2 linked regions of the Homo sapiens genome follow. The protein of the gene in region 1 interacts with the protein of each later gene in a biochemical or structural test. Each region holds a gene or a part of one and is shown on either strand. Other genes may lie near its edges. The genes, in order: TRIM11 and PHLPP1.

Region 1 (3,660 bases):
TGTCATGGTGGTGGGTTGTTGGGAAAACGTCCTCTGCTCATACTTCTGACATCAGTTGTGTGGGTATTTTCACACCAAACAATTCTTCAACTTCTGGAAACGAATTGGGTATCCAAGGATTCCATTCAGCATTGAACAGAATTGCCAGTGCTGACACTACAGGAGTTAGTACAGACCCCACAGATTAAGGGCTCAGTCCCATAAGACTGCCCCCACTTCAGATGCCAGTCACAACTTCCAGGGGCTGCCCATACTTCTGTTCCCTCAGCGCCTCTGCAGATGTGAGCATTCGCTAGCACAGCCCATGGAACTCAGAAGAGCACTTTACTTACTGTCATTGGTTTATTGTGAAGGATACCACTCAGGAAGAGCCAAATGGAAGAGACACATGGGCAAAGCCTGGGGAAGGGCTCAGAGCTTTCCCACCCTCCCTGGGTGCACCTTCCCAGCACCTCAGTGTGCTCACCAACCTGGAAACTCCCTGAGCCCCAAGAGCTGTTTAGGTGTCTTTGTGGAGGTTCCATTACATGGTTATGATTGATTAAATCATTGGTCATTGGTGATGGGGCTCAACCTCAGACCCCTTTCCCCTTCCTGAGGTCAGAGGCTGGGGCTGAGTGTTCCCGCCCTCTACTGACAGGATTGGTCTTTCTGGTGGCTGGCCTTATGCTGGGCTCTCAGGTCCCCACCTCAGCCACTGCAGTGGCATCAACTCAGGTGTGATGGAAAGGGGCATCTTATGATAGCACAAGATGCTTCTATCAGTCAGGAAATTCCCAGGGTTCTGTGAGCTCTGCGCCAGGAACTGGGCACAAAACCCAAATCTGAGTCTTGTATCACAGTCACCCAAAGGAAGTACTATCCTCAGCTCTTGCTAGCAGGTCAGGAGCCTGTTGTGTAGGAACTGTGTGCAGGCCTCCAGAGGTGGATAGATCTGAAATCGGAGTGGTCAGGGTTGGGACAGCTGCCCTAATTCACATCCTTCATTTGGAGATTGAAAGGAAAAACAGACTGGATGCATTGGCTCACCTCTGTAATCCCAGCACTTTGAGAGGCTCAGGCGGGAGGATTGCTTGAGGCCATCAGTTCAAGACCAACCCGGGAAACATAGCAAGACTCCCATCTCTACAAATAAAAAACAAAAAAATGAGCCAGCCATGGTGGCACACGCCTGTAATCCCAGCAGCTTGGGAGGATCTGAGGCGGGAGGATCATTTGAGCCCAGGAGATCAAGGCTGCAGTGAGCCATGATCGCACCACTGCACTGCAGCCTGGGGCCACAGAGCAAGACCCTGCCTCTTTAAAAAAAAAAAAAAAAGCAACCAAGATTCCCTCTTGATATCTGAAGGCAAAACATGGACCAATTTGTAGGACATTGTAAGTTGCAACTGGACGTAGCTAAGTGGGGAGAGGATGTCCACTTGGAGACAGTTAGTTACTCCAGGAGGTTGTGAGGCTACAGGCCCAGGGCAGAGAGCCAGGCCGTCCGACTGGGAGGATTGTACCTACATGCCCAGGACATGGGCAGATGGCCCCAGCTTGCCTGTGGCTGTGCCTGGGTGACCTTGGGCCTCTCTCTGCAGGGGACGTGACCTTGGACCCGGACACCGCCAACCCTGAGCTGATCCTGTCTGAAGACAGGCGGAGCGTGCAGCGGGGGGACCTACGGCAGGCCCTGCCGGACAGCCCAGAGCGCTTTGACCCCGGCCCCTGCGTGCTGGGCCAGGAGCGCTTCACCTCAGGCCGCCACTACTGGGAGGTGGAGGTTGGGGACCGCACCAGCTGGGCCCTGGGGGTGTGCAGGGAGAACGTGAACAGGAAGGAGAAGGGCGAGCTGTCCGCGGGCAACGGCTTCTGGATCCTGGTCTTCCTGGGGAGCTATTACAATTCCTCGGAACGGGCCTTGGCTCCACTCCGGGACCCACCCAGGCGCGTGGGGATCTTTCTGGACTACGAGGCTGGACATCTCTCTTTCTACAGTGCCACCGATGGGTCACTGCTATTCATCTTTCCCGAGATCCCCTTCTCGGGGACGCTGCGGCCCCTCTTCTCACCCCTGTCCAGCAGCCCGACCCCGATGACTATCTGCCGGCCGAAAGGTGGGTCCGGGGACACCCTGGCTCCCCAGTGACTCGGGCCCTCCTGGAGGAGTCCTGTTGCCTCTCCTGCCCCTCCAGGCCACTGAGTGTTTTGGCCACTTGGAGGACCTGGGAGGAGGGAGTGTGTCCTTTGAGCAAGAGGAGGAACTCCTGGTGCCTTTCTGAGCCTGCGTGGGAGAACCCCAATTCTAGCACTCCAGGAAACTGTGGGAGAGTGTGGGGCAGGCTCCGTCCTCCCTGGGAGACCCCTCCAGCCACCGGGTGCCACTTAATGCCAACAGCCCTTACCAAAGCTGGGAGCCCCATTGCCCCGGCAGCTCTGGCCTGTGGTTCCAGAAGCTGAGAAAACTCCACTGGGGCTTGCAGAATCCAGGGTTCACCTAAGCTGCACAGTTCCTGCAGCTTTGCCAGCCCCCTGAAAGTCTTGTGTACCCCACCTCTGAAGATGCTGGGGGAGGCAGCTGGGATGGGAGCCAGCCCCATGCCTGTCTGTGACCCCACAGTGGGTGAGAGCCCGTCACAGTCCTGGGTGTGGCTGCTCTGGAAGAATTAGGAGGCAGCCATAATAAGAGTCTTCAGAGAGATGATGGGAGGGGCCAGTGAGGACAGGAACAGAGAGTAGATGTCCTATAATAAAGGGGCTTCTGGGAGGTGCCTGGGCACAGATGTCTGTTCAGCAGGTGTGTGGGCCTAGAGGAGAGAGCAGAGCCCAGAAATGTCTTTTGCAGGCCCACGTTCTGACTTGAAGCTTTCGTGGGCATGTTGCCATTGGGTTTTGCCCTTGCAAAGGCTTCCTAGGTCTCCAGTGGCCCCTCAGGACCCAGGGTCCCAGCTGCTGCTTGGGGATGTGCACTGCTGGCCGCCGGCCTTGCAGTCTCTCTACCCTGGGGAGGAACAGTGGCTTCTCAGAGCCTGGGGCATACAGAAGAAGGCAGGAGTTGATTTTTGTGTTGGGTTTGGGGTTTCTTTGTCCTCAAGGTACTGTTCTGTTTCTCTTTACCCCTCTGCTTTATTTATTGTAAGCATTCCCACGTTAAATAAACTTTGGCTGTTGTCTACAAGTCATCCTGCTGGTGCCTGCTTAGTCCAGGAACAATAGCGGGTGCCCCACTGCCCAGCAGAGGGCAGAGCCCCAGGGAGGCTGTTGACGGGGCAGGCGGGAAGCTCAGGCAAAGTAAGGGCCGGGACGGGCAGCCACTTCCCACACCCAGGCACAGATGGGCTCTCCACTTTCTGTGCTCAATATATATGTTCCTTATGTGGAGCTATTGCCGGAATGTTTTTTTCGAGATATCCTGGTAAATGTTTCCTGCATTCCATTGTGCTTAACGAGTAGTCTCCTGATTATCATTTATTCAGTCACTCTCCCATTCTTGTCTTTTTTTTGGCAGGGGCCTGGGGGGGCATTATGTAATACCATGTTGAACAAGATCAGCAGTTTCATTCAGCTGCAACAAAGAGAAGTCTGAGTGGAAACCAGGGGACTGGGCATTTCTCTGTGTTGGGGTGGGGTTTTTGTTTGTTTGTTTGTTGTTTTTTGAGACAGGGTCACCCATGCTGG
Region 2 (8,329 bases), on another chromosome or scaffold:
GAGGGAGGGGTAAGACTTCAGAGAGACCATAAGGTCTCATCCTGCCAGTGAACAGGGAACATATTAATTCAGTTTGGCCACCTGGGGCCCATTTAGTGCACTAGAGCAGTAATTTGCTAAATGGGTCCCTCATAGTAAAAAAGAATGAGTAAACAGTGAACAATTTAGGCATGGTAAACCACTAGTAGCTCAAGGGATATAAAAATGTGAAACTATAATTAGATCCCTTGTTCATAATGTAGGAACTAAATGTATTACATTGTATATTGCATCTTTCTGAGTTTATTTCTGGACACAGCTGAGCCCTTAACAACTCAGACTGAAATCATCCCAGCTATCAATTTATGCCTCTATTAAAATTCCAACTGCTTATATTAGAAAATAAACCTCCAAAGATGACTTCTTTTATCTTAGTTCTAAGGATTCAAACAGAATTAACCTAGATGCAGATCATAGCAAGTCAGTTATAAATCACACAGCATAAAGTAAACTGTGGCAATAAATTGAAAATTGTGTTCTCCTTTTCTAAACTTAGATGTGAAAATATTTTAACAAGTTGGCATCAGGATTCACAACTTTTGCATCTGATGTTTCTTTTCAGGATTATCTTTTAGCATTTCAAAATGGGATTCTTTGGAAAGTGTGGTTAGTCAGAAATGTGGTATTAGAACGTACATTTGGAACACTTTAAAGGGGGGCATTCATGATGTATGTGGTTTTAGGATACTGGTGTATTCCCCACTCCACTTTCAAGTAGGAGAAGCTGCCATTTCATGGGTGTCTGGAACACATTTGTCTTTTATTGAAATCTTTTTCTTATTTGGAGAAATTGTATAGAGTGCATTGGCACAGATGGTCTGGGTGATGTTTCCCGATACTAGCAAGCTCTAAGTACAAGTTTCATTGCCCTTTATCAATTTGTTCTTTCAACTACAAGGATCCAGTTGATCTGGCGGTAAGGGATTGTTTATTCTTCAGGAGCTCTCATTTTCTTTCTGTTTCTTCTCTTACCCCAAGCTTAGTAACATCACTGGGGGCTTGGGTCAGAACAAGGGAAGGATTACACAGTGGACCCCGGCCCTTTTGCTCTCCCCTTAGCTCTGATTTACATTATTCTGCATACAATGGAATATGTCATCTTCAGATGATGGACTCTATGCATGAAATCCAGGAAAATTGTATTTTAGGTCCCCACCCCTCCAAACACTGTTTTTATGAGGTAGGAATGTATTTCCTTCTTCGTTATGCTGAGGTACTGTAACAATATTCATCCTGTTCATTTCCTGCCTCCTCCCGACACCACTTAGTATTAGGTATCCCAGTACCAAGCCCCTATCTGCCAGGAGTGTATGATGGCTCTCCAGTCCCCATTTCCCCATTATTTGGATACTAAATCCTCTGAGCAATGTCTTTATTTTTTTTTTGAGACAGAATTTCTCTCTTGTTGCTCAGGCTGGAGGAGTGCAATGGCGCAATCGCGGCTCACTGAGTCCTCCGCCTCCTGAGTGGCTGAAATTACAGGCACCCGCCACCACGCCCGGCTAATTTTTTGTATTTTCAGTGGAGGCGGGGTTTCGCCATGTTGGCCAGGCTGGTCTCCAACTCCTGGCCTGAGGTGATCCGCCCGCCTTGGCCTCCCAAAATGCTGGGATTACAGGCGTAAGCCACTGCGCCCAACCTGAGCAATGTTTTTGGTACAAATTTTTTTCCCCTTGAAAAAGGTGTTTTAGTTATAAATACCTTCAAAGAGTAAACAAAATTGCTAGAGAATAAAAAAGGCAGAGTTGCGGTGATTGTGTAATGTTAAATAATAGGAACCATGGGTGGATTCAATGCGGTATTGTAATTTCTTAGAGAAGGAGCAATGGCGATAGAATTTATGATTAGAAGAAACATTCTGGGTTAGGTGTGGTGGCTCACGCCTGTAATCCCAGCCCTTTGGGAGGCCGAGGCAGGTGGATCACTTCAGGTCAGAAGTTTGAGACCAGCCGGGGCAATATGGTGAAACCCCATCTTTACAAAAAAATTTAAAAAGTAGCTGGGCGTGGTGGTATGCGCCAGTAGTCCCAGCTACTCAGGAGGCTGAGGCAGGAGAATCGCTTGAACCCCGGAGGCAGAGGTTGCATTGAGCTGAGATGGCACCATTGCACTCCAGCCTGGGCAACAAGAGTGAAACTCCATCTCAAAAAATAAATAAATAAATAAATAAACAAACATGCCGGCCGTGGTGGCTCTCGTTTGTAATCCCAGCACTTTGGGAGGCCGAGGCATATGGATCACCTGAAGTCAGGAGTTTGAGACCAGCCTGGCCAACATGGCAAAACCCTGTCTCTACTAAAAATACAAAAATTAGCCGGACGTGGTGGTGTGTGCCTGTAATCCCAGCTACTTGGGCGGTTGAGGCAGGAGAATCGCTTGAACCTGGGAGGTGGAGGTTGCATTGAGCCGAGATGGCGCCACTGCACTCCAGCCTGGGTGACAGAGGGAAACTCCGTCTAAAAAAAAAAAGAAAAAATAAAAATAAAATAAATAAATAAATATAAAGGGGTTTGTAGGAAATCAACTAAGGAATATAAAGAGGTATACAAATTCCATGTTTTAGTACTGAAATTTAACATGTGCCTTGTTTTTTAAATTTTATTAAAGGATGCCTAAATTAAAGGACTATTCTTTCAATTTCTAGAACAAATAGTTTGTGTCGGGGCTACTGAAGGCACAACACAGATCAGTGTAGTTGAAATTTATCTCAATATAATTACCTCTTTGGTTCTTCCCTTTCTTTCAGAGACTGATCCTTCAACAAATGCACATTTTCACTGACTCCAAAAAATTTCATTCAAACTTTGGTCTGTATTGCCTGACTTCTTAGACTAGGTTAGTTCCTCTTGTTTTATGTCTATTTCTGTGGCACCTTGTATTTTCCCCTTCTGTACTTCTGCTGCATTTTTTGAATGTTATTCTTTCTAACCTGTAAACTCTATGAAGGCAGGGACAGTGTGTGATTTATTCAACTGCTATAACACGGTGACTGGTACATAATAAATGTTTGTAATTATCTGTTAAATTAATTGACTTGAAAATGTTATCACTCTTGGGAGAACTTGCAATCTCCCTAATTTTTCATATGTTGCTGTTGATTGAATTTAAATAAAATACATATTATTAATAGATTCATGAGGCTAAGGGGTGAAACTTTAAATGAAAATACAGAAAATCATCAGGAATGTAAAAAATCATTGAGAAATATTTATTTTTATCTCCACAGCTTCTTCATTCTTGTTCAATGAAACTGTGATAACCTAAGCGGTAAGTTCCAGTTGGTCTCTCTCTCCAACCCCCTTCACTCTTCATCTGCAAGTTTAGTCACTTTATTGAGGTTAAAACAGGTCATAGATAGTATGTGGTTTAAAACTGTTTAAAAGTTTCACATGTGAAAATCCGGATTTAGGGCCTGGCGCGGTGGCTCACGACTGTAATCTCGGCACTTTGGGAGGCTGAGGCGGGCAGATCGCTTGAGACCTGCCGGGGCAGCATGAAGGGACTTCCCACCCCCACTAAAACAATACAAAAAATGAGCCGGGCTTGGTGGCAAGCCCTGTAGTCCCAGCTACTCGGAGGATGAGGTGGGAAAATCACCTGGGCCCGAGAGGCGGAGGTTGCAGTGAGCCCAGATCGCGCTACCGCACTCCAGCCTGGACGACAGACCCACTCTGTGGCCAAAAAAAAAAAAAAAAAAAAGAAAAAAAGAAAAAAGAAAGAAAAAAAGAAAAGAAAAATCCCGAATTACAAAGCAATTGGGGGAATGGTAATTCAATTAAAAAGGTGTACAACATTCTTTTAAATAGTAAACTGCCCAATGATTACAACATTGATTCAACTGACGAAAAATACAACTTTTCAGACCACGACTAAACATTGTGGCAGTAGAAACTATTTTTTTTTTCCCTGAATGATGAAAGAAAAAAACCAGAGAAGACGTTAAGACAGAACACGTGGAAAAAGCCCATCTCATACTCCATTCTAATGTTTCTTCTACTTACCAGTGCTTTCTGTGTCATTAAACTACTTCAGACTTCAAGAGCAATGGGAAACAATGAAACCTCAGTCCTTTGCTATTTTCCTTTTCAGGTACAGGAGAGGGAGAGGACAGACTTAGGGTTGTGCCTTCGAACAAGCACATTCAACGACAGCCTCAGTTAGAATTCCCAGACGCTGCCTGTCTTCCTGGGTCTTGAAAAAGTGGGGAAAAAGTGAGGTTGGCCCACTCAGACTGCCAGTGATGCTGTGGTGTGACGGGTGTGTATCTCTATCTCATACAATGGGCGCAGGTGAGGACCAGGACCTGCGACCTTCGTACGTTTACAGTCCCTGAAAGCCCTCACCTTTAATTAGTAGGGAAAATAAAAGTCATCTGGCAAGCTGGAGTGCGGGTAAAATACAAGTTAATGAACATGAGCATTCGTGTTCATTAAGAACTCTGGCACAGAGTTCAACGGCAGAGGGCACAATACTCACTGGCCACGGCCAGCTGCTGGCGGCCAGGAGAAGCAGAACCAAAGGACCGCTGGGACTTGTAGTCCACCATGTTTCCCTCGGGATTGCCGATCCCCTTACGAGAACCACAACTCCCAAGGTTTACCGCGCGCGTCGGTCTTCACTGCCCTCTCCGAGGCCGGCTCAGGAACCTCCCGGGAAACTGCCCCCCACCCCGCCCTCGTACGCACGCGTCACGTTTGTTTACCCTGAAGCTCCGCCTCCGGCCATCCCCTGGCTCTCCCCACTCCTCCCTGGAATGCCGTCATGCCGGCGATGAATATTTATGAGGCACACGCGGCCCTCCCGCCCTGCCAGCCTCCCGCCTTCCCGCTCCCGGCGCATGATTAATATTCAATGAGCCCAGATCCGCGGCTGGTTCGCCGGGTTGAGGCGGGGGTAGCGGGCGGGGCCGGCGCTGGGGAGCCCGCGACCCGGGCGGGGAGGGCGTGTGTCGGGGGGGCGGTGGCGGCGAGGCGGGCGCGCGGGATGGAACACTGAGACACCGACGGAATGCTCCGAATCGCCACATAATCCCCTGGAACGGCCGCGCACAACGCCATTGGCTTCTCCCTTCTCCGCGCGCCGCCGCCGTCTCCCACCTCCGCCTCATCGCCTCCCTCTCCGCCCGCTGCCTCCGGAGCTGGGGGGGAAACGCGAAGCCCCACTGCAATGGAGCCCGCCGCCGCGGCCACGGTACAGCGACTCCCCGAGCTCGGCAGGGAGGACCGAGCTTCGGCTCCGGCGGCCGCCGCTGCGGCAGCAGCAGCAGCAGCGGCGGCCGCGGCGGCTCTGGCGGCGGCGGCCGGGGGCGGCCGGAGTCCGGAGCCCGCGCTGACCCCGGCGGCCCCGAGCGGCGGGAACGGCAGCGGCAGCGGGGCGCGGGAAGAGGCCCCAGGCGAGGCGCCGCCGGGGCCGCTGCCGGGCAGAGCGGGGGGTGCCGGGCGCAGGAGGCGGCGCGGGGCGCCCCAGCCCATTGCCGGCGGGGCTGCCCCCGTACCCGGGGCCGGCGGCGGCGCCAACTCCCTCCTGCTGAGGAGAGGGCGGCTGAAGAGGAATCTGTCCGCGGCCGCCGCGGCCGCCTCCTCGTCGTCGTCGTCCTCGGCCGCTGCTGCCTCGCACTCCCCCGGCGCTGCCGGCCTCCCCGCCTCCTGCTCGGCCTCGGCGTCGCTGTGCACCCGGAGCCTGGACAGGAAGACGCTGCTTCTGAAGCACCGGCAGACGCTGCAGCTGCAGCCGTCGGACCGGGACTGGGTGAGGCACCAGCTCCAGCGCGGCTGCGTGCACGTCTTCGACCGCCACATGGCCTCGACCTACCTGCGCCCGGTGCTCTGCACACTGGACACCACGGCCGGCGAGGTGGCCGCCCGCCTGCTGCAGCTGGGCCACAAAGGCGGCGGCGTGGTGAAGGTGCTGGGCCAGGGGCCCGGAGCCGCCGCCGCCCGGGAGCCCGCTGAACCGCCCCCCGAGGCCGGCCCCCGGCTGGCGCCCCCGGAGCCGCGGGACTCGGAGGTACCGCCCGCGAGGAGCGCGCCGGGTGCCTTCGGGGGGCCTCCGCGCGCGCCCCCCGCCGACCTACCCCTGCCCGTCGGCGGCCCGGGCGGGTGGTCGCGCCGCGCCAGCCCAGCGCCCTCGGACTCCAGCCCCGGCGAGCCGTTCGTTGGGGGCCCTGTCTCTTCGCCCCGCGCCCCACGGCCTGTGGTCTCCGACACCGAGAGCTTCAGTCTGAGTCCCAGCGCCGAGAGCGTGTCTGACCGGTTGGACCCCTACAGCAGCGGCGGCGGCTCCTCGTCGTCGTCGGAAGAGCTCGAGGCCGACGCAGCCTCGGCCCCGACGGGGGTCCCGGGCCAGCCCCGCCGTCCCGGCCACCCCGCGCAGCCCCTCCCGCTTCCCCAGACGGCTTCCTCGCCTCAGCCGCAGCAGAAAGCCCCGAGGGCCATTGACAGCCCGGGCGGGGCCGTCCGCGAGGGGTCGTGCGAGGAGAAGGCAGCGGCAGCCGTGGCCCCGGGAGGCCTCCAGTCTACCCCCGGGAGGAGCGGGGTGACCGCGGAGAAGGCGCCTCCGCCGCCCCCGCCGCCCACCCTGTACGTGCAGCTCCACGGAGAGACCACCCGGCGCTTGGAGGCGGAGGAGAAGCCATTGCAGATCCAAAATGACTACCTCTTCCAACTGGGATTTGGGGAGCTGTGGAGGGTGCAGGAGGAAGGCATGGACTCGGAGATTGGCTGCCTCATCCGCTTCTATGCAGGTAAGGAAGTCACCTGCCTTGACGGGTGGTTGCAAAAGCTGCCGAGGACCGAGGAGTGATTCAAATTGCTTGTCAGTTTGCCCAACCCAAGAGTAAGTGCGGGTCCTGATGAGTCTTTGTCTTAAACTTTACAGCTTTTTCATACAGTCTGTGTAGTACTAGATTGAGCAATCTTTAAATCTGCACGTTTTATCAATCTTGAGGGCTCAGAGGTTGGAAAGCAATGTGAAAGAGGTGGCTGAATCACCAGGAAGTACAGGAAGCAGATCCCTCTGAAAGCGGCAAGAGCACCTTTAACCATAAAGGTGCTTCCTCAGGGGCATGTTGGGTTTCAGGCAGTTTGGGATTTCAGGTAAACTGTCACGTGAGCATAAGACGGACAGAAGAAATGACAATAAAAATGCTCTATCACACTTTTGCCTGCATTTGACTGTCCAGTTGAGCGTTCTAGCTGTATGTGCCACCGGGAGCTCCTGACTTGTCAACTGGTGCCTTTGTTTATTCAGCTCTGCCACACTCATAAATTACCCACGGAGCCCTCATTAGAAATCTGACAAAAGGGTGCCTTTTTAACTGATACTTTTCCCCAGCGCTTTTTTTGCTCGATTTCTGTTTCGTCTGCAAGTTTGTCTTGCATAAAAAAAAAGATTTTGCCTGTTTCTCTCATTTTCTTCCAGCCTTTATGGTCAGAACTGACCACCGCAATACGCCTTGCAGGAAGGTTCACAAGAAGGATTTAAGTGGTTGCTATTTCTTCAGATGTGTCCTGAAATCTTCCCCCGTCTTGTTTCAGTACATTAGCAAATTCTTGACTAGGGGTGACCCATGTAATGTTTCTCTTTTGGCTGAAGATTTGGCTAGTACTAAATTCAGGAGCTATAGATGCTGGATATTGTACTTGAGTTTTCTAAGTAGTTTTACATCCCTTTCCTCCTCTGGTTTGAATAATTATGTTCTCAGTGATAAGGAATTTTATTTAAAATAAAGTTCTCATAGCAAAATTAAATCAAGAGTGTTAACTCTTCGCTAACTTTACGTTTTTAGGTTGTAGGTGATGGTGGAAAATAATCATACTTGTAACTCCATTAATTTGTAGCCATTCTTTACAATTTAATGTCTTTTGGTCCAGCTTGTGTGTCCCAGTGGCAATTTAATTAGTTTGCATGAAGAAATCTTTACATCTTTACTCCCACATTGAAATATGCAAGACTGACAGGATTCCTGGTGAGAGAGATGCCCTTTAAATTTCTTGGAAGTTTTTCTGAAATTTAAGTGGATTTCTGATGAATCTTTTACTTGTAAAGAAAACCAAATCGTAATACAGTAGCATTTGCAGTATCTGAAGACAATTTGTCAACTCGATGACATGGCTTTTAAAGTTTATGGTCCAGGAAATAGATGATTTTTTATGTAAGATCAACAACTGTATTCTTTTCTCCTTTAATTCATGTAATTTGTAAAATATTGTTATTTTACAAAAGCATTAAAAATAGGTGCCCTTTAACTACATGGAAGGAACTGTATATAAAAACAAGGGATGTATTAGAG

Evidence for each region.
Region 2: the proteins of TRIM11 (region 1) and PHLPP1 form a complex in vitro, tested with the Homo sapiens proteins (one study listed by BioGRID).

The regions. Positions count from the first base shown.
Region 1 is NC_000001.11:228,393,176-228,396,835, reverse strand, and holds the end of TRIM11 (E3 ubiquitin-protein ligase TRIM11), read left to right. Parts: exon of another isoform or gene 1-93; intron 94-1,029; exon of another isoform or gene 1,030-1,125; intron 1,126-1,583; coding exon 1,584-2,131; 3' UTR 2,132-3,160; downstream 3,161-3,660.
Region 2 is NC_000018.10:62,710,479-62,718,807, forward strand, and holds the start of PHLPP1 (PH domain leucine-rich repeat-containing protein phosphatase 1), read left to right. Parts: upstream 1-5,062; 5' UTR 5,063-5,205; coding exon 5,206-6,781; intron 6,782-8,329. UniProt on the Homo sapiens protein: Protein phosphatase involved in regulation of Akt and PKC signaling.